Linked DNA regions of Homo sapiens: regions 1, 2 and 4 are each reported to be linked to region 3. The links are microRNA targets in miRTarBase. Many come from high-throughput screens and were not tested one by one. Region 3 holds a microRNA gene; each other region holds the end of a gene's coding sequence. Distances are from middle to middle.

Region 1 (6,107 bases), not on the chromosome of region 3:
GTTTTTTCAGTAAGCAAGCTTCCTTATCTTTAAATTAGTGACCTGATAAAATTTTTAAGTAGTTTTTGTTCTTTTCGTTTATAGAAATTTTTGATTCCGGAATGGCCAAAATTCAAGTATTTAATAAGCCCTTTCTAATTTGTATGAAGTGTCTAATTTTATAATTTTGTTTCAGAAGAGATCACAAAATGGCTCTTCTTCAGATGGCAACAGTGGAAGAAGCTATTCAGGCCTTGATTGATCTTCATAATTATAACCTTGGAGAAAACCATCATCTGAGAGTGTCTTTCTCCAAGTCAACAATTTAAAAATGGGAAGATGAAGATTGGGGGTGAATCACATTGTTCAATGTCATCACCTATTTGACTGTTCAGAAAAGTGGGGACCAGAGTTTGATTTTTTTTGTTTTTGTTTTTTTGGGGTTTCTTTTTTTTTTCCATGCTGTTATCATTCCTTGGTTATAAAATGAAATGGCATATGTAAAGGCAGAGTTGTTAACTGCTATATTTCATCTGTTCTATAGGGAAGCCATTTTGTCTGTTTAAAATTTCAGTTTAATTTTGCTTTTTTTTTTTTTTTTTTTTTCCTTTCAACTTAGTTGACATACGTGCCTTAAAAAGGAAAACTAGTGTTGCTATTGTGCATTTACTAGAAAAAAGGAATTGGTTGTTTAGGGCACACTGTTATATGGGAATTAAAATATGTTTAGGCAGGGGTGTGTAAAAAGGTTAAGTTTTTGTTTCTCCTGCTTGGAACTTATTTTGAATTACTGGCTTGTCACCTTTTTTTCTATTTAATCAAATAAGATACATGATATTGAAAGAATAAAGCAGCATTTTTAGTTTTTACTACCTTAGGCTTTATTGCTTTGAAAACAACATTGGCCTTTTGTATCTCACAATTCTGGTCTAGATTCAGTTATGAATGTAGGCATTAGTTAAAATTAACAAGATGCAGAGTATTAATTTCTTAAGACAACAAAGTGATTTCTGTAAGTTTGAGCCCTATGTGGAAAGCATTGTGGAATCTTAACCTTTTCGTACACACTCTTGTGGGACGTATCATATAAATGTCAGCACTAAGTAATGTCTTGTTTGTGGCTGAATATTTTTCGTAGATGTTTTTGAAGTTGACATGACTTACGTGCATTTAAATATATATTGCCATCCTTAGTTTGTAATTAAGATTTGGAATATGGTTGTGGATTTCTGAGCATGTGCAGACTGGTCTAGCTAGTTCAGGAACTGGTGCATGTATTTTTCAAAGATAAAGAAAGTGTACTGCGAAAATATGCAGGAAGATTAATTTTGTGGCAGTTTTCTAAAACTGACAACCAGGTGGGACCAAAGTTTATGTGCCTTTAGTCTTAATTTACCTTGCATTGTAATATTCAGTTTTAATAAATCTTCAAAATATTTTGTATTTAGGAATAGATCTGACTTTAATAAAAACATGGCTCAGAATCTACAGGTCAAATTAATTTGAACAGTTCTTGTCAATCCGAATTGTTGATTCTGTTTAAATGACCAATACTTTTTGAAATTGATGTACTTAGTTTCAAGATTCATAGATTCTGTTATCTATGTAGACAGAATGGTCATGTATATTTTCTATTAGTTGAGTTTTTACATCTTTAGAAATGTAAAATTCAGTATAGTTTGAAAGCGGCACAATTAAAAATTAATTTTCTAACAAAGTTGGGAGGTTTGATGGTTGTTTAATTTCATTTTGTGTGTACTCTGCTTACCCCTGTAGCATGCTCAATAAACACTTCTGTAGCTCTATATTCACCTTTTCTGTCTTTCTCTGCTGCCTTTTCTCTCTCCTCTTCTTTGTTTTCACTCCACTGTGCTTCTGAATTCATGTTTATTCTCTGCCAGGGTGGGAAAGGAGTAATAATATTACAATTCTATGGCTTTATACCATAAATAAATCTAGATGCTGTGAAAATATACCAGCTGGTTTTTTTTAATTTAAAAGATGGTAACTGCTTTTCAGGAGGACACATATTAAACATTTCCCACCCTGTTATAATCTACTGCTTTAAAGACATAACTTTTATTGTAGCTTGTTAATTCTATCTCTTTTGTTCTTGTTGTTTTTTTTTTTTTTCCAGTAGATTTATGCACTAATAGATCTTTTGGATTTGCCATGCTCTCTTGCTGCAGTTTCATCTTTCATCTTTTGTGTCTGCTAAAGATTTCTTACTAATCTTAGACTACCTTGTGAGTTAACAAAAAGAACTTGATATTACTGGGAAGAAAGAGCAGCATATCTGCATATCAGCATATCTGCTTTTGCCTTGGGTGGGAAGAATGATATACATTCAAGTATTTAAAAACTTAGAGTAATTTGCATTTAACAACTGAGGATGTTACTACTGTAACTTGTTAAGCAGTTACAATTAGGGTGCTATTTATATTCAAAATATTTCGGTCAGTTTTTCTAAACAGATATATTGGTATCAAATAACTTTGGAGTTACACATGTTTCTTAGGTTTGTTCTGTTATAAAATATCCCACACTTATGCAAAACTTACACATAGGATAATAAAAAGTAAATGAAGGAACATAAAATATGTTTTACTATACTTAATGTAGTAATTCAGTTACCTCCAAGAAAGAAGAATATAATAAGTAAAATAATTTTGTTTACACTAGTGTCACTGTTGTCATCTGAAGAAGAACCATTAGAGTCAACAGTCTGGGATGATTTGGAAGCTAGGTGATCTGTGTTTTTTTCTTAAAATAACATCGTAGCACAGAGGAACTCTACCAGCATCAGATAAGTCTAAAGTCTAAAAAACCAATACCAGGGTTAGTGAATAGTAATTGAACAAAGCTTCTCAAGGTGAAGTTTTTCTCAGTAATTAGTGGTGGCTATAATATTTGAAAGTAGGTTCTGTCACCTTTTCAGGTGCTCATTGTGGGTGGGATTGCCTTGGGAAGGAGAAACTAAGTCCTGAGCTGTGTGTGTGGACTTAGTTTGTGCCAGTTGCTAAGCTGGTGGGAGTTCCCAGTCTCCCTAGTGGGAGATAACCAGAAACCAGCTCTTCCTGCCTAAGGACTACAGCAGATTCTATACTGTCTTACAGTATGCCCTAATACGGCCTTCCTTCCAAAGCACCAAGTCACTAAAGGGGGATTTTGACATTCTAGAATATTTTTAATTCAGTACATCAAATTAACCCAGGCCTTGGCATATAGTGAATTGCTTATTAAAAGTTAGGTAAAAATAAAAACAGCTTTGTCGTATATTAGTACTCTATGACTCTTAGAGTGAACAAGCTAACAAGTATTCTTAGGACTTAGCTGCTTTGTTAATAGAGGTCTTAACTTGAATATTTAGAAATAATCAGAAAAATTATTTTTTGGTATTGAAGATGTATTTTGGAAATGGGTTTTAAAGTACCTACTTAAGGAAGAGATATCTACAGTTTATATTTAACGTTAGCATTTGAAAGCAATGAAGAAAATTTTTCCTTAACCAGGAAGTGTAATGAATCATTATATTAGAGATTAAATTAACACTTTGGAAGCATTTTAGCTCCTAGAGTTAAGGTTAGTATAGTGAAATTATGGTGATTAGCTTAATTCATTCATGTACATCTATTTGTATCACCATATAATTACTAGGGAAAGGACAAATCACTTTTCAAAGCCTCAATGTTATTTGTAAAATGGAGGCAATAAGTTCTGCTCTGCTCCCCTCACAGGATTATTACAGAGGCTCAAATAGGATAAGTGAAGGAATGCTATGCAATTAGTTAACTAATGCCAGTTCCCAGACTGCCAGATTTGCCCACAGTAAACTTCATTATCCACAATACATGTTATCCTAATATGTCTTTTTGCTACAAAGAAATACTAATGTTTTAAAATTATTTACTAGTTTCATAAAGCAGAAAGATGTAAAATGCAGTTATAGAGAGCATCCCAAGCCAGATGAAAAGAAACCATGGATTTAGCTTTATATTTTCTGTTTGAACTTGATAGCCCAATCATAAAATGCACATATTTAATTATAGACTGCACTTAAGATTTCATATGTATAAAAAAGTTGCTGTGAAACAGGTAATTTTAACACTCAGGAATTTCAAGGCTAAGGAAGAAAGACATACTCTCATGAGCAGCTCTGAACTTCAAACAGGATTTTCTGGCTGCCTTAATATATTAAAATGGAGCCTAAATCTGAAAACGTTTTTTTCATTCAGAAGAAAGTACAGAATTCAGTGAAATTGAGTATACTAGGAAATCTGATGGCAAGAATTCAGCAGAAAGTCTTAATTTTAAACCGTAATATTCATTGATTATGCAAAACCTTAGTTTTATAGTTATTCTTTGTTATTTTGAATAGCTTCCCTTTAAATTTTCTAGTTTCAGATTTTGCAAATAAAAGTGTACATGTTAAAGTTATAGAGTATTAGATTATTCACATTAAGAACTGTTCAAATACGCGGAAAAATAAAACCGTAATGAACACCTATGCACTTCACTCAACTATATCACTACCTAACATATTCCATATTTTAAACGTAATTATATATTAGTTGAAAGAAAACGTTACAGAATGAACTGAAATCCCATATGAACCTCTTTCTGATCTTAGTTCAAACCTTATTCTTTCCCAAGAGGTAATTGTTACCTTCAGTTTAGTATTTTATTATTCAGTGGTTGCTTTTCAAGAGGAATTTGTCCTATATTCTGTAGGCTAAATTTCTTGTTTTGCCTAGTTATAAAAATGGCAAATAATATGATATTGGGTGTTTAAATAGTACAATATTGTTCAAAACACACTTTATAATTTTTAACAGACTGTTTGGACATTGATAATTCCCCTATCAAATCTCATGACATTTAACCAATTTTTAACAAGGATTTTAAATTGTGTTTAAGAAATAAGTCATTTGGGCCTCAGGTTTCTCTTAAGGATGTAAACAAGGAGCTATATCATTGGTATTTTAGACGCTGAATTATGTGTAAGGTCCTTAAATACAAACATACCCTTTGTAGCTTCACAGAGCCACCCGTTTTGCACTTCTCTCGCTTTTCTTCCTCCCTCTTTGGCTCCCATTTCAATGGACAGAAAGACTATGTGGCATCTCTATTTTCATTCACTTGGTTTATTGTCTTGGTATGTTGTATAGGTTTTTGAATCAGAAAATTTTAACATTTTTAGATATTTCAAACATACAAAAAATAGAAGAATATTTAACAAACCCTTGTCAGCTTCAGTTAGCAACTTAGATCTTCCTCGTTTCCTCCACCCAATTCTCATCTCCTTTATTAATGCAGATCCCAGATATATTTTATCAAGAAATTTTGTAGCATATATTTGTGTTGTTTTATTCGTGGTCATAGTTGCTTTCTCTAATATCTAGACTAGCCTAGCTGGTCAATACTACTTTTCTTCAAATCCTAGAACCTCCCTATTAAAAATATAGTCACCAGACCAGTGGCAAATTAGTATCACCTAGGAGTTTATTAGAAACTCAGTCTATGAGCCTACTGAATCTACATTTTGACAAGATTGGCAGGTGATGCATTTGGACATAAGTTGGAGAAGCACTCAATGCATTTTTTCAGTTCTATAAAAATCAGCTTCAAAGTTTTTTCCTGAGTGTGGAAATTATTTCATTAGTAATTTTAAGTTATGCAGATATAGTTAATACCAAGAAATAATTGAACTGAAAAGGAACCCGGATATCTAGTTTTAACCAGCTGTTTTAAAGATAAACAGTTCTAGAGATCAAATGAATAGTTTAGCAACATATTTATTGTAACTTACCTGTAGTTAGAATCCAAGTCCCTGGCTTTCCAATCCAGTCTTCAATGTATAATACTGATCAAAAGAAATACAGGCCTGCTATTATTCATAAATTTAAACTATTATGTACAAGTTGATAGCTTATAATAGAAATCAGTATGATTAGTGTTAAAAGTCAAATTTAGTCTGACAGGGAAGGAATGTCCATGTGAACTGATTTTTTTTAATAGAATGCAAATTAATACTCAATTCCTGATTTGTTTATTACATTTTGTGGTTTAATGAAATGATACTCAGGTCATTTTCATAAATAGCTTTTCTATTAATGCTTCCTCAGTCA
Region 2 (6,151 bases), not on the chromosome of region 3:
AGCTGTAAAAACGTTCAAAACAAGACCACATCTAAATGCCACAATCAGGTTTTAAAGGCCAGCTCTCTACCCTCCAATAACTGGTATTTACCAACACCCCCAAATTATGACTCCTTTGGGTTTTTAACCCTTTTTCTGTGCTACGGATCCTCTGTCAGTCTGGTGAAAACTAGACCTGTCTTGAGACTAGTGCTTTTAAATGCATAAAACAAACAAAAACAGCTATGAAAGAAACCCACTCTACATTACAGGACCGCAGATGCAAAAGCCCCTCTGCTCTATTTGCCACAGTGAAAAAAGATGAGAAAATGTGGAAGGCCATAGAAGGATCCCAGGGAACTGAATCCCGAGGTCCAATTTACTCTCAGTGGCAGCAGGGAGACCTGGGGCTGGGACAAGCCAGCCCTAGGGGGCGTGTCTGAGGACGCGGAGGGAGGAGACGCGGGCCCGGGTCTGGGAGGAAGGTGGGAGAATCTTCCTTCCAAAGCGCGCAGGGCTGCGCTCCCCACGGCGTGGCCCACCCCCGCCTCACCGGTCCCCGCCGTCCCCAGCAGCCGCTCGGGCACCCCTTGTAGGTCTTCATGGAGGCCGCGGAAGATCTCGTGCAGCTTCTCGAAATGCTCCGAGGAGGCGGCGGAGGAGGCCATGGCGCAGGCCGCGCTGGAGCAGCGGCCACCGAGATTCGGGGCCCTGGGCCCTTTCCTAGCCCGGCGGTCAGCCGCCCAGCCCAGTGGCCATAACGGCGACCGCCGCACCACCGCCGCCCAGGACGAGGCTCTTCCGGAGCCGCGGCAGGGTCCTCTCGAGCCGGAACGCCCACCTTCTCCAGCCAGTGATTGCTGGAGCGCCGGCGCGAAAGCCTGACGAGAAGTCGGGAGACTGCGCGGCCTAGGCGACTCCTGAGGGAGCGGTGCCGCGCCGGGGCGATCGGCAGTCGCGGAACCCGAGAAGTGCCGGGTCCGGGTTGGGGAAAGGCCGCAGCGAAAGGGGCCTAGGGGACCTGCGGGACTGGCAGCGCGGCCGCCTTCCTCCCGGGCCCCGCCGGCCGGCGAGGGGCGGGCGCTGCAGTGCACGCCGGGGGATGTAGTTTGGCTCGGACGAGAGCGTCTCGTCCCGGGGTCGCGCGTTGCTCCGGGTGCCAGGTTCAGCCCGCGCGGCGACAGCGGGCTTCGGCCCGATTTGATGTATGTTTGCGTCTAGACGTCGTCCTCACTGTCATCGCGCTTTGCTTTGCCACCCTGACCCGAATTCCTCGTTTCGCGTCTTGACTGTTAGCTTTCGGCCCTGGAAAGATAGCCGGGCCAGGGGCTCTGCCTGCCGTCGGGAGGTGGAGCACTTTTCTTGGAAGGCCCAGCGGCTCCCCAAGCTTTCAGAAGTGGAACCCGGCCGGGCGAGTGGCTCGCGCCTGTAATCCCAGTACTTTGGGAGGCCGAGGTGGGAGGATTGCTTGAACCCAGTAGTTCGAGACCAGCCTGGGCACAATAGCGAGAGCTCTACCAGAAACCCAAAATAAGAACCGGGCATGGTGGCGCGCACTTTTGGCCCCAGCTACCCCCGGAGGCTGAGGTCCCACCACTGCACTCCAGCTTTGGGAGACCTTGCTCCCAAGTGGAGCGAGATCTTGTCTCCAAAAAAACAAAAAACCCAAAAACCAAAAATTCAAAAGTGGAACCCAGTTAGGATGACCTCGAAATACTCTAGCTGCTAGGCCCGAGTAATTCTCCTCGTGGAGACTAATTCTCCTCCTAGGCTGCCTCGTGCACTTGTTGACAACAGGTGTTTGTCAAGCGTAGGCATTGCGAGGGATCTGGGCATGTTGGTGAATAAAACATTTAATCTCTGCTCCAGGGGAATTTATAATCTGGTGTGGAAGGTGGGCCTGGCTTCATTAGGTCTCATCTGCCACTAAGTGTCACGTGTTAAAAATTACAAGGTCCCTTCTTGCACTCCATGGGTATAAATTCCTGTCTTCACGTCGGGCATGGTGGCTCACGCGTCATCCCAGCACTTTGGGAGGCCGAGGCGGGCGGATCACTTCAGGTCAAGAGTTCAAGACCAGCCTGGCCAACATGGTGAAACCCCCGTCTCTGCTAAAAACACAAAAATTAGCCAAGCGTGGTGGTGGGCGCCTGTAACCCCAGCTACTCGGGAGGCTGAGGCAGGAGAATCGCCTGAACCCGGGAGGCAGTGGTTGCAGTGAGCTGAGATCGTGCCACCACACTCCAGCCTGGGTGACAGAGAAGACCCTATCTCAAAAAATTAAAATAAATTATTATTTTCACCGATTTCACGGTTTGCTCAAGGTGTCTGTTCTCAAATGTTTGCTTGGGAGTTCAATTTTAAACTGCCTACAAATATTAAAAGATGTATGACTGCTCAGGAGAAAATGCTTTGCTAATTTGTATCTCCTGGGCCCTCATTTTTATTAGATCAAGTTCATTGGCTGTTGATTCAACACACTTTGGTTAAGCTCTTAATATGCACTGAGCATAGACATGACCAAGTCTGAGGATAGTCAGTATACTGTGTAAGTCCCACAGCACAATGCTGGGACTTGTCACAGTACAGAAATAAGGGGCAGGTGCAAAAAAAGGATCAATAGCCTGGGGCCGGGTGCTGCGGCTCACACCTGTACCCCAGCACTTTGGGAGGCCAAGGTGGGAGGATCGCTTGAGCCCAGAGTTTGAGGCCAGCCTGGGCAACAAAGCAAGACGCTGTCTCTAATTAAAAAGAAAGGAAAAAAAAATGGCCCGGGATGATCAAGAAATGTGGAAAAAGTGTCTGTGAAGAGTGTCAAAAAAGGTTAAGTAGGAAATGGTGAATGAACAATTAGATTATCACACAACCTAAATTAATAGCATGTGGATTGAGATTACACTGTAGCTAGACTCTGGAACAAATTATTCTTTAGAATGAGAAATCATTGCACAACCATAATAATGAACAGTGTTTTCTTCTTTTGACTGTAATCAAACTTTTAATTCTTAGTTTTTATTCTGGTAAATGAAAACAAAAAATAATCAAAAAGAATTTTTATTTGTCATTGACAGTTCAATATAAATTAAGTAAAACATTAATTCATTTATTCTGCACTATTATCAGAATTTTTCTAATTTTTCCGTAAAATGACCATTTCTAAACATATAGCTTAATGGTCAAAACAAGTGCAATAAAAGATTAATTTACAAGTATCAGAAGTGAAGACTGTGGTCCTATAACTCTTTCCCCCACCAAAGTTAAAATATAATTGTCATTCCAGGAAATCAAAATCTTTTAGAATAGCACACTCCAAACAAGTGATGGGAACACTACTAATTCCTTAGACTTCCTTTGGCAGCATTACTTTTGATAAGAAGTCTCCAAATAAAATACAAAATTTTGGCACAGACATTTTAATCTTGTCAAGACAATGTAAGGAAATGCCCCAAAATATTATTAAATTGACCATAATTACCAATATCAGTCCCTAAGATAATTTTTCTGAATGAAGAATTGTTTTTTTTGTTTGTTTGTTTTTAGGATTTTTTTTTTTTTTTTTTTTTTTTTTTTTGCCACACTGGTTTTTGTTAAGACCTCATCAGTCCTGGGTGCTTGCCCTCAATTCCTCCATAGCTATGTTAGCATATTTAATATCTTTTGCTATTAATCCTTAACTAGTTAATCCTTAAAGGGCTAGTTAATCCTTAACTAGTCCCTTCATTTTGTGCATTATCTTCCAGTATTCTCCTTCTCTTTTTTTACTTCTTCCCTGCTACCCATGTGCTCTTGGTGGGTAGTTACCAACATATACAGAATCTGCTTCCCTTTGCAGCATTTCATTTGCATAAAGACTGGATGGCACTGGTTTGCTCCATCTCTGATTATTGTGGCTGTTTTGAACTTTGTGAAAATACTCCCTTGGCACACATAAACAGGAAGACACACAAAGATATACACAATTTTTAGTAGAGGTGGGGTTTCACCATGTTGGCCAGGCTGGTCTTGAACTACTGACCTCCGGTGATCCACCATGCCTGGGCAAGCCCTGCTCCTGAGCCAGTCTTTGTTATTCATGTTAAGCTGAGGTTGCAGTGTGGCCCTCTTGAAGTGAAGACTGGTTGGTTGGGAGGAACTGAATTGTGAACAAAGAAGCTAGTTCAAATTTGCATAAATCATCCCTGCTATAGCTTAGATTCTCCTAGGTAGTAGTTTCTTTCAGAAGGAAAATGAGCTGTGCAGGTCATATGAGGGTCTTCTTATCCTATTATGATATCTCTAGTAACTCTGGCAGTAACAGAAGCAAAGTAAATCTGGACATGACAGACATTTAGACGAATCTGGCAGTACACTGAGTTTTAACTGGACACCAAGCAGGCAAGGCTGGAAGGTTTTGCTCTCTTTGTGCTAAAGGTTTTGAAAACCTTGAAGGAGAATCATTTTGACAAGAAGTACTGTGTAGTCTGCTGCAGTCTTCTCTTGGGTCCAACTGGCACTGCCTGTTAGTCTATTGGGAGGCCCAGCAGGTCACAACTGACGTCCCACAGCCGCCTTGCTATAGTCTCATTACGAGCTTGGGCAGAGACCCATGCCACATGACAGTCACTGGAAGGTAAAGAGAAAGGTATGAAGCACAGTGTTAAGAATGAAGTCTGCCATCTGCCAGGGATAAGGAATATGACATAAAAACAACTAGGGATCACATGTTCTCCATGTACTTCACAGGGCCAGTGTTTGTCCTTATCTCTTCATTCTCCAGTCCTTAGCCAGAGAAAATGTAATTACCATTTTAGATCTCCTCGCTAGACCACCTCTCATCAGAATGCTTTGTTTGATATATAATGCATACATTTGGTCTTTATATTCCCCTATTTATATAATTTAATATTAGTGCCTGCCTGACACCCATGTATATCCATCTTCTTCAAGTAAGTCCATAAGGCCCATTCTACAGAGCCTTGGACAATGTCATATAGCTGAGATCCTGCTATTCACATTGGTCAGAGATGCCTGGAGTAGTAAAAAAAAAAAAGAAATGCTTATTTCTGGACTCCTTGAAGTTATACTGTTAGTAAACTCATATGAGAAGTAAAGCCAGCTTCGAAAACAACAAAAGGAAAAGGCGACACAGAAAAGAAATGGTAAAACCAAGGTACGAGGTGTCTTGGTCCATTTTGTGGTACTGTAACAGAATACGACAAACTGGGTAACTATAATGAGCATACAGAAACTGGCTTATGATTATGGAAGCTGAGAAGTCCAAGATCAAGGGGCTGGCATCTGATGAAGGCCTTCTTGCTGTGTAATAACAAGATGGAAGGCATGACATGGGCAAGAGAGGGAAGGGGACACAAGTCATCCTTTAATAAGGAACCACTCCCAAGATAATGAACCCGTTCCAGAGATAATGGCATTAAACCATTCATGAGGGCTGCCCTTGTGACCTAATTTACCTCTTAAAGGCCCTGCCTCTCTATACTGTTGTATTGAGGCTTAAGTTTCCAACATATGAACCTTGAGGGACACATTCAAATCATAGCAAAGTGTTTCATATACCCTCTCTTCATTGCTGTAATTAATTCCAAGTTTTTTTTTTTTTTTTGGAGGCGGAGTCTCACTCTGTCGCCCAGGCTGGAGTGCAGTGATGCGATCTCAGCTCACTGCAACCTCCGCCTCCCAGGTTTGAGCAATTCTCCTGCCTCAGCCTCCAGAGTAGCTGGGATTATAGGCGCCTGCCACCATGACTGGCTAATTTTTGTATTTTTAGTAGAGACAGGGTTTTGCCATGTTGGCCAGGCTGGTCTCGAACTCCTGACCTCAAGTGATCCACCTGCCTCGGCCTCCCAAAGTGCTGGGATTACAGGCATGAGCCACTGCACCCAGCCTGTAATTCCAAGTTTTATAATTTTATAATTCCGATGCAGAAAATTTTCTTAAGGACAATTCTGACTCATTTTTGTATTCTCTGGATCTGGTATACATCTGGTAAGCATTCAGTCAAAGTTTTAAAAAAAATGATTGAATGTATTACAATCTTTAGTCATGTGAGGAAACAATTTTTAAAAGTATACTATTTCAAGAAAATTGCTTCCTCAGTATCTAAGCAAATTCTGAAGGTGAAAGAGTTGACAAGTCTGAATTAACTATATATGCAAACTCTTAACACTATGTCAAG
Region 3 (4,000 bases):
GGTTGTGAAAAATACTTTTTACTGATTTCATTTAATACTTTATAGTTTTCCCTGGTATATTCACACCTATTACTTTCATTTTATCTTCACTCCAAGTCAGTGAGTTATATCCTGTTTAGAGATGAGATCGCAAGTTTGAAAGTGGACTTGCCCAAGGTCATGCAGCAGTTAAGAGGCAAGGCCAGGGCTACACCCCAGTTTTCTGACCTATATCCCAAGGTGTTCACAACACACAGCTGTCTTCTTGGATGCCTGCTAATTGTAGCTGCCGTCTTTTAGACATTCTCTCCACATTTGATAGTTCACCTTAGTGTAAAGTCCCTCCTTCCTAAAATAGGACTGAAAACAAACTGCCCAGCCCCACTTCCTGCTAGGATAGAGACACACAACTGTGGACCCAGTGGCTTCCCAATCTGGCAGAGGCAGTTGTGGGAGAAGCTTCTCGATGGTGGCATAGGCAACAGCTCTCTTGGCAGACCAGTTCTGCAGACTATCAAGAAGCTCCACCTGCAGCCTGTTTCTTCAGCCTGTCCGACAATTCTGTGATCTATCTATATACCTCAATGCATTCTTTTGTGCTTAATCTAGCTACTCTGTGGATTCTGTTCTCCACAACGATGACCAGAGACCAACACAAGTTCAGAAGAAATCCTTATAATACTACAGTGTTTCCTAAAACCTTCCAGAACAACTTCCCACCATCATTACTATCTTCTAAAATCCAATCCCATTTCCATAAGATGTTAAAGGATTCTGTAGTTATGTAAATAAATTATAAAACATCAAGTTAAACAGATTTCTTTACTACAGGACTTCTCAGAGCCTTAAAATGCATGTGTGCTTCACAAATCTCCAAGAAAGGGACAAGTATACAACATTTGAAAAATGTATTTGACCACTGAACCATTTTTTAATATGTCTTACCAGTACAGTAATATATTTGGGGAAATATTGATCAACATACCTTCTACTTGGAAAAAAAAGTTTATAATTATAAAATATTTTAAAATAAGGCTGCTGAAATGAGGAATACAATTCTGGAATATGTTGGGTGAAATTATGGAATGTATTAGGGTTGAAAATGATTTCATGTACTGTTCAGGGGATATATTTTAGTGCAGCCATTTTGGAAAGCATTGGCAATGATTATTTTAGGTTAATGCAAAAGTAATTGCAGTTTTTGCCACTGAAAGTAATGGCAAAAACAGCAATTACTTTCACACCAACCTAAATAGCAAGTGTCTTAATCCTTATATTACTCTTTAATCCAATTATACTTCTAGGAATATTTCCTTAAAAAAATCTGAAATGTGGACAATTACCAGATCCTCAGCCCTTATATACACTTTTGTGACTTTATGCAAAAGAAAAAAATGTTCTCACTTGAGAAAAACACAGAAGGGTACTGCTTTGTCTTTCTATTCAGGTCATAACTTCCTTATGATTGAGGGAAAAGAGACAAAGGGGCTGTTATTTTCTTAGTGGCATCATGACACTATATAAACATTTATTTAGCTCTTTACCTCCTACAGAAAAAGGAAAAAGGAAAGTTGAGAACTTTCCCAAGAGTATCTCTATTGTTAATTAAAACATCCTCAGCCAGATGCATGGCATCCCTGTAAGTGAAACAGTGAAGAACCTGGGCGACATGAGTATGTAGTTAGAGGTGTCACGATGCTGAGCTAACCCGAGGGCTGATGATGAACTACAAACCTTCAGGATAGATTTTTTTCTGTGGGATTCAGTTTAACTTGGTAAAGAATATGATAATGATAAAGAACTGCATGTTAACCCTTTTAAGTCAATCTAAGTATTTTTAAAAGGTCCTTTAATACTACTTAAATATTTAAATTATATTTTGAATATGTATATACTTAATACATATAAAAATGATATAAATTTTCTGTCTAATTCTGTGGAGGACTGAAGGAAGCTTCAAATTCAGCAATTTGTAGATTCAGATCATGTGACTAGGACAGCACTGCCCTCTAGTGGTGGAGTATCATGCTTTCACTTTGAAGCTTCTGATAGATCAATAAGCACCTTTAAAAGGTTGAATCTAAGCCAGGCGTGGTGGCTTTTACGCCTGTCATCCCAGCACTTTGGGAGGCTGAGGCGGGTGGATCACCTGAGGTCAGGGAGACTAGCCTGACCAATATGGTGAAACTCCATCTCTTCTAAAAATACAGAAATTAGCCAGATGTGGTGGCATGCGCCTGTAGTCCCAGCTACTCAGGAGGCTGAGACAGGAGAATTGCTTGAACCTGGGAGGTGGAGATTGCAGTGAGCTGAGATTACGCCACTGCACTCCAGCCTGGGCGACAGAGTGAGACTCCGTCTCAAAACAAATCAAAACAAAAAAAAGGTTGAACCTGGGCGGGGCGCGGTGGTCCACGCCTGTAATCCCAACATTTTGAGAGACCAAGGTGGGAGAATCACTTGAGGCCAGGCATTTGAGATCAGCCTGGGCAACACAGCAAAACCCCCACCTCTATAAAAATTTTTAAAAATTAGCTGAGCATGGGGAGGCTGAGGAGGATGGGAGGATGGATTAGGCCAAGGAGTTGAGGTGGAAGGAGGACTTGGCCCCTCGAGTTTGAGGTTGCAATGAGACATCCATGATCATGCCACTGCACTCCAGCCTAAGAGACAGAATGACACCCTGTCTCCAAATTTTTTTTAAAAAAAAGGTGAATCTATTGTTTAAAACGGAAGTTATAAAGAGACAGCAAACACTCAGAAGAACCTGTAACTCTTAAATAGTGAATGCCATAACCAAGTAAAGGTATTCAGCTCAAAGGCCACTCTTCAATTTGCTCTCAAGTGCATTTTACAGACAGAGAAATCATGGTCTCCAAAGATTAGAAATGGCCTGGCACGGTGGCTCACGCTTGTAATCCCAACACTTTTGGAGGTTTGAGGCAGAAGGATAGCTTGAGCCCAGGAGTTCAAGACCATCCTGGGCAACATACCAAGATCCTATTTCTACAAAAAATTTTAATTAATGGTGATGCACACCTGTGGTCCCAGCTACTCAGGAGGCTGAGGTGGAAGGATCGATTGAGCCCAGGAGGTCAATGCTGCAGTGAACTGTGGTCACTGCCACTGCACTCCCGCCTGGATGATAGAATGAGACCCTGTCTCCAAAAAAAAAAAAAAAAAAAAAAAGAAACAATTTCATCTCAGTCACAAAACCACATGAACCAAGAGGTCTGTGTTTCTGTCATGCTTACTATCTATTAGGCAAAATCCACAAACCATCTTTTCACATTTTATCTCTAAAGAAGTGCCAACTGCCTATAGCAGCAGCCACTGTATCCCTCTTCCCAAAGTTCGGCCCCTGGGGACCAGAGGCCCACACAAACCCAATAAGATCTGGGAACCCCTGGAAGGGAAACGAATCCTGAGCCTTCTCTCTATGTCCTCAAGGAAGCAGAACTGGGGGATGGTCTCTCTCTTAGGCTCCTATGTCAACAGAATCTACGTCTCATAAGAAGGGATGTGGTGGCGGGCGTGTAATTTACATCAGAAAAATGAAGTCTCTACCCTTGCTCTGTCATAGCACACCACATAGTTAGGACTCAGGACTGGTCGAGCAGGACCGGCCAACCCGAGGGAGCATATCTGGTGATTTACGGGAAACTCCAGTTCTCTCAAGGAAAATGGGATGTGATAGGAAAAGCAAAACCAACGAACAGAGATTCACCATGTCAGAGTGAGAAAGAGTAGTGGGTTATATTTAAAAAGGATTTTATACATTGGAAAGTATTTTCACAAGCATCTTATTTGCTCCTTTGGTTATGACCCCATAGGCCTTTATTCCAAGGCACCAGATTTTAAAAAGACTGAGAAGTTAAATGGCTTGCCTGTGTAATCTGGAAAATTGGTAACAGACTCAAGACTCACCCAGAGTCTGTTATGTTTCCCATAGCACCTGTGACACCCAAGGTGGAGGTGCCTTAATTACCAGCACATACAAATTATGAGAGGAGGAGCCCCT
Region 4 (5,871 bases), 58 Mb from region 3:
AGCCATGGGGAGAAGCAAGTGGCCACTCACTCTAGGCCACTCACACTAGGTCTATTCACCAGGCTCAGTGCTGAGCAGGTGCCTCTAACCCCTTGCAGCTCTCAAAAGGCATTTCTGAGATCGAGGAGAGGCATACTCATGGCTTAGCAACTGCTTCTCCAGGCTGGCTTTGCCGCATCTTGATCACCTGCCTGGGGCAGAGGGTGGGCTCAGGCCTCCAGGGAGCCCATCTGCCAACGGGTTCGGTGCCATGGTGTCTGACATCCAGGCACCAGGTGCAGGCCACCTGAGCATCTCTGGGACAGCCCATGAGGCCGACCAGCTGCTCCAAGAGGTACCTACCCCATCGTCACTGGGAGAGGAGCAGGCTCACTCCTCCTGGGCTCGGGCACAGCCCTCTCTCCCAGGCCCGGCCCCTTGATCTGCAAGTGGCACAGCAGGAACAGTTGGTCAGGGAAGGGGACAGTGCTTCCTAGGCTGGCACTCCAGAAGGCAGCTCGGCGCTGGGTGCCCAGCACACACTTAGTACATGGCCTGTGCCATCACAGCACACTAGCTCCTCCCCAGATGCCTTCACCCCTCCACAGTCACCCGAAAGCACAGAGATGAGGCCACTGGAAGCTGAAGGGAGGTGGAAAGACTAGGGCATTCAGGTTATGACCCTGGCACAGGCATCCCTAAGGAAGCTATGAAGGGGAGGAGAAACTAACAGAATGATCCATGGAGTCTGAAAATGAGCCCATGTGACACAGGGGCTGAGGGGGTGACCCTTTGAGCCCAGGAGCTGTTACTTGTCCCTAGCCCAGGCCTTGCTCTCTCTACTTGGAAATCAAATTAATCACAGCTACTGTAGCAGGTGTCCACCTCAGCTAACCCTTGGAGAGGTTGAGACATGCCAGGATGTGCTGCAGTAACAAACAGCCTCCAGTCTTGGAGGCTTAAAGGGTAGGGTTCACTTCTTTTTCTGGTCACATGTTCAGTGCATGCTCAGCAGGGGGATTCTTCCCACTGAGCCCCCTCAGGGACCCAGGCTGGCAGAGGCTCTATCTTTACCACATGCTTCTGCCATCACCGTGGCTGGCTGGAGCAATGTACTGGCCATTAAATTCTCCCACCTGGAAGTGACTGATGCATGCCACCTCTACTCACATCTCAGTAGCCAGCGTTAGTCACACGGCCTCATCCCTCCTCTAATGGGGCAGGGCAGGGCGATGCCCCTCCAGCTGTCCCGAGGGAAACGGCAGAACCTGGGGCTGTCCTGGAGAAGACCCAGTCCCACATAGCGGGGGGAATCCCACCACAGCACACCAGGAATTTTCTAGAATGTTGCTGAGTTTCCACCATGGCCCCATTCTGCTGAGCAGGAGGAAGACTTAACCTCAGTTATGCTTAGGGCTTTTCTGCCTATTCCGTGGATCTGGTAAGGTCTCAGGCTCTTGCACAGTGTCAGGAGGTCAGAGGGAGAGAGGCTCTAATGCCATTTGTTATGGCTGAAGTCAGTCCCCCAACACTCATGCACTGAAGCCCCAGCCCCAGGCACCTCTGCAGGGGACTGCATTTGGAGATTTGGCCTTTACAGAGGTGACTAAGGTGAAAAGAGGCCATTCATTGGGAGTCCTAATCTAATCTGACTGGTGTCCATATAAAGAGAGGAAATTCGGACCCAGAGAGACAGCAGGGACCCCACACACAGAAGGAAGACCACTCAAGAAGGCAGAAAGGGGACGGCTGACTGCAAACCCAGGAGAGGGGCCTCAGAGGAAACCAACAGTGGACACCTTGATCTTGGAATTCCAGCCTCCAGAACTGTAAGAAAATAAACCCCTGTTGTTGAAGGCCCCCATCTATAGTACTTTGTTATGGCAGCCCTGGCAAACCCATACATCACTGGCCATGCGTTCACCCGTTATATCACCATGCTCCAGTGCTCTGGGTGGGTGGACCTGCAGGTCTCAGAGCTCTGCTGCTTCAGGGCCATGTGGCTGGCACTGAGCTTGGCAGCAACTGAGGACCCTGTGTCCAAGGTCTTCTTCCCTAAATTCTCAATGGTGACACCTCTAAGGTGGGTGCTTCACTGACCCACAAACATGAGGGTGCAGTTACTGAGGGAGGAAAAATGGATACCAGTGGCAACCAGTCACCTGCTACCCTGTACCACTAGTGAAGAAACTGAGGATCAAGGAGAAGCTGTGACCTGCCCAAGGTCCACAGTCCATGTGCAGCAGCAGTGGGAAGGTGAGATTAGACTTTGGCCACATACAGTGAACTCTGTCACCACGTTAAGACTCCAGAAACCTCGCATCCAGCCGCTCCTCTGCCTAATGCCTGTTCGCACCCAGACACCACACAGACGTGGTCTGAGCAGGGCTCTTCAGAAAGACTGAAAATGTGACTGGCATACCACGTCAGTGAGGATGTGCCGGTGGGAATGAAAGCTGGCATAGCCTCTTGGAATGGGTGTTTTGGTTCAGATTAGGTTCAACTGTAAGAGAAACATCAAAAGTGGTTTGAACAAGATAGCCACTCATTTCTCTCATACGTTCCAAAAGTCATCTGAAGGTAGGACGTCCGAGGTCGTTACAGATGCACTACAGTGTCCATGACACCGGCTCTCTCTATCCTGTCGCACTGCAATGAGAAACTTCCATTCCCCAGATTACCCTATGGTTCAAGATGGCTGCTATCACTCCAGCCATTATAAGCACATTCCAGTCAGCAGGAAAGAAGGGCCACCTCTTATCTCTAAGGAAGTTGCATGCATACTTACATCCATTGGCCAGAACCCACCTGCAAGGAAGGCTAGAAAATGCAGTCTTTATTCTAGACAGCTGTGTATCTAGCGAAAAATCAGGGATTCTCTTCCAATGGAGAAAAACAACATATATTGGAGGACAACTATTGATCTCTGCAGAAGACTAATAAGAGTAATTAAAACTAATTAAGACTGTGTGCTCCAGCAATTCTACTTGCATGAGTTACCAAAAGCAAATTTATAAGGATTGTTGATGTTGCCTTGTTTGTTGTTGCAAAATTTTTCAGAAACAAAAGGGAAGTGGTTTATAAATTGCCATATATCCATATATATGTAGCTGCAGGGGTGAAGCAGTCCTCCACTTGACATGGAATGATCTCCAAGATCCATTGGAGTGAGCTACAGGACATTAGCATTACAGAAAGAGGGATGATATACACATCCGTTGGTGTGAACACAGGATGGCTCTGGAAGGTTATGGAGACCCTGGGTGCTTCAGGAGGGGGACAGAGGAATTCAGTGCCACACAGGGAGATTTATCGTTCACCAAATACCCTCCTGTACTGCATGAACCTTTTTTTTTCTTGCCATGTACATATATGACCTATTTTTAAAAAACAAACTTAAAAATTATAAAAATGGTCTCTTTTCTTCTGTTGATGCCTCTCTGCTCATTCACTGCAGCCAGCAAACTTCGGCTGACACTGTGCCATCTTGGACTGCATGTGGATCTGATGGTCAAATCCCTGCTGGCCCCAACCCTTACCCCGCTCACTCAGAATGCCGTGAGCTTGCCTTCCCTGATTACCAGGCTTTTACATGAGCTGAGAGGCCCCGATAAAGTATGCCATTCAGGGGCACCCTGCAGTACCCCCTGCAGCCCAGGAGTCCAGCTCACTGGCCGTACTGTTGGCCCTGTCCGCTATCAACCCTCCAGGCCCTCCCAGGGAGCCTGACACATTGGCCCCACAGACATGAGCTGTGTTGGAGCTTGTGCCCTCGGCACCCCATTCCCCCCTAAAAAAAAAAGGCTGATCGCGGAGGCGGGCAACAGCCTGATCCTCAGGGTCCCCACAGCCAGGGCTGAGACCTCCCCAGGCTCTGAAGCATGCAGTTGGCTGTGTCCTGGATGGGCTCCTCCTCTCCAACTCTGGGGATTACATAACTGGCAGCAACTCCCTTTCACTCTGGCTGCCAAAAAGCTCAAAGCCGAACTCAGGTACAAGGGCAGTGGCAGGGACAAGTGGGCCCCTCTCCCCTACTCATGCCTTATGATCCCAGTGCTTTGCTCTGATTTACTCCCATTTTCAGCCAACCACACCCATCCTTATGACAAACATCAGTCCCCGAGTCCTGTCTGCTGGGGGCCTACTATGTGCCAAGCACTATTCTTGAGGCTAAAAATAAGAGCTATCCTTATCGTTCATTACTGTACGCCAGCCACTCGTGCTTAGTGTTTTCCAATCCTTACAAAAGGCCCTGCAGGATGGGTCTTCTCCGCATTTTACAGATGGCAATAGTAAGTCCATTCTGCGTTTTAATGGAGCTGAGCAGAGAGAACCGGCTGCCCAAGACAACAGTGTGTGTCTGACAAAGGGAGAGGGGCTGGCTCACAAAACATAGTTCTCCTCTCTCTCCATGTCTGTCCCCCCTACTCAGATGGGCCCAGGGGCAGGGGCAGCGGCAGCTGGGATCCTGTTTCTCTTCACCTCCCCAGCAGCCAGCCCAGGGCTTGGGCACTGGGGACTGCTCCTTGGTTGAGCAGAGGCCCCCTGAGCCTCCCAGCCCCTCACCCAGCCCTCAGGCTCCTGAAAGGAACCAGCCCCAGTATTCCTGCAAAACCTCCACATTAGCACCTTCTGCTCCTTTTCCTTTTTATTAAAAAATAGATCAAGAAAATATACACACTTCAGTCCATCCACCATGGTGGATGCTTTGAGGAGGCCAAAGCACCATGGGGATGGGATGGAGGCATTGGGAGAGCCAGCCCTGCCCTCGTGCCAAGGGTGCAGAGAAGGAGGGTGCCCTCAGCCAACCTTGCCAAGCATGGCCCTGGAAGGAAAGCCTGGGCCATGTCACTGAGCAGTATGAGAGCAGGTGGGAAGGGGAGGAGGGTCCCCAGTGAGAGCAGAGATGGCAAAGGGGATTGGGAGCCCCAGGGAGGTGGGGCCTCCAGACTCATGGTGGGAACAGGGCCACACAGGGCTACTGCCCACAGAACGTCCCTTGACCTGGTCCTCCTCCCCTGGGGACTCTGGGCCTGCTGGCCTCCTCTCTGGCCTGTCCTCCACAGGCCCTGGCAGCTGCCCTCAGGCATTGATGGCCTTCCAGCGCTCGCTGTCTGTGCTGTTGATGCTGCCAGTGTGGCAGGGCATGGAAGCGATGTCATCCAGGTAGGCCACCCCGCCGGCAGAGTCGAACTGCGTGCTCGAGTAGCTGGCAGCTGAGGCCCCAGCAGCCCCTGCAGCCTCCAGGCCCTCCCGCCGGGCCACAGCGTAGGGCTGGGGTAGGTGTACATCTGGCTCCTCTGTCTCGTCCACTTGGCATTTGTAGGAGAAGAGGATCTTGGGCTCCGAGCTGATAAAAGGAAAAGAGGGGCATGGAAGCCTCACTGAGTGATTCAGGAAGAGCCTTCCTCTCCAGGCTGATGGGGCCACCAGATAAGGAAGGAATTGACCAACAGTCGCCTGACACCCACTCTGAGTGGGCCTGTGAGCTGGACCCCAGAGCCCATCTAGACTTGTTTTGGAACCCAGCCCTCCTCCCCCTGGCTGTGTGAGCTCAGGCGGGGGGCATCTGTGCCTGCTTCCTCATGGTGAAATGGGTGTGTGGACACCGTGTGGAGGAAGAATGGACATAAATCATGAGGCTTCAACAGTGCCTGCCCAAGCACTCAGGAGACATTGGCTGTGGCCTCCGCCCCCACTCCTGTGACCCCTGCTGCTCATGTTACCACCCACTCCACTCTGACCTCGTCCCTCGGCCCTCAGGGCAACTCTCCAAGGGGGACACACTACACCCAATTTACAAAAAGGAGCCTGAGGCTCAGGGGAGAAATTGTGTGCAAAGATCCAAGCTGGGGCCATGGACCAGTCTGGCCCTCTCCCAGCTTCACCCAG

Evidence for each region. Region 3 holds the annotated microRNA hsa-miR-548aq-5p (GAAAGUAAUUGCUGUUUUUGCC, at 1,198-1,219, opposite strand). A microRNA usually pairs through its seed, bases 2 to 8, with sites in the 3' UTR of a target mRNA and lowers its output. Matches are read on the target gene's strand: a 7mer-m8 pairs with bases 2 to 8, a 7mer-A1 pairs with bases 2 to 7 and ends in A, and an 8mer does both.
Region 1: the mRNA of PTBP2 is a reported target of hsa-miR-548aq-5p. The part of its 3' UTR that is shown has no 7-base or 8-base seed match.
Region 2: miRTarBase lists RDH11 as a target of hsa-miR-548aq-5p. Seed matches in the 3' UTR shown: 7mer-m8 at 4,281-4,287.
Region 4: miRTarBase lists TPRA1 as a target of hsa-miR-548aq-5p. Seed matches in the 3' UTR shown: 7mer-A1 at 3,591-3,597.

What each region holds. Positions count from the first base shown.
Region 1 is chr1:96,813,098-96,819,204 of GRCh38, forward strand. It overlaps PTBP2 (polypyrimidine tract binding protein 2), which reads left to right. Exons shown (of 14, transcript NM_021190.4): 13 at 1-9; 14 at 179-1,952. The coding sequence ends at 308. Among named protein-coding and RNA genes, the nearest start is that of PTBP2, 94 kb to the left of the region's middle.
Region 2 is chr14:67,673,843-67,679,993 of GRCh38, forward strand. RDH11 (retinol dehydrogenase 11) reads right to left here. Exons shown (of 7, transcript NM_016026.4): 7 at 2,958-4,581. The coding sequence ends at 4,479. VTI1B (vesicle transport through interaction with t-SNAREs 1B) reads right to left here and starts at 790. Exons shown (of 6, transcript NM_006370.3): 1 at 533-790. The coding sequence starts at 647. It also overlaps a transcript of GPHN not described here. RefSeq lists silencers at 465-574, 675-1,114.
Region 3 is chr3:185,766,686-185,770,685 of GRCh38, forward strand. MIR548AQ (microRNA 548aq) reads right to left here and starts at 1,219; the gene lies at 1,162-1,219. The region is part of intron 2 of IGF2BP2 (insulin like growth factor 2 mRNA binding protein 2); the gene reads right to left. RefSeq lists enhancers at 2,621-3,121, 3,122-3,622.
Region 4 is chr3:127,568,460-127,574,330 of GRCh38, forward strand. It overlaps TPRA1 (transmembrane protein adipocyte associated 1), which reads right to left. Exons shown (of 11, transcript NM_001136053.4): 11 at 2,773-5,329. The coding sequence ends at 5,062. Among named protein-coding and RNA genes, the nearest start is that of MIR6825, 3.9 kb to the right of the region's middle.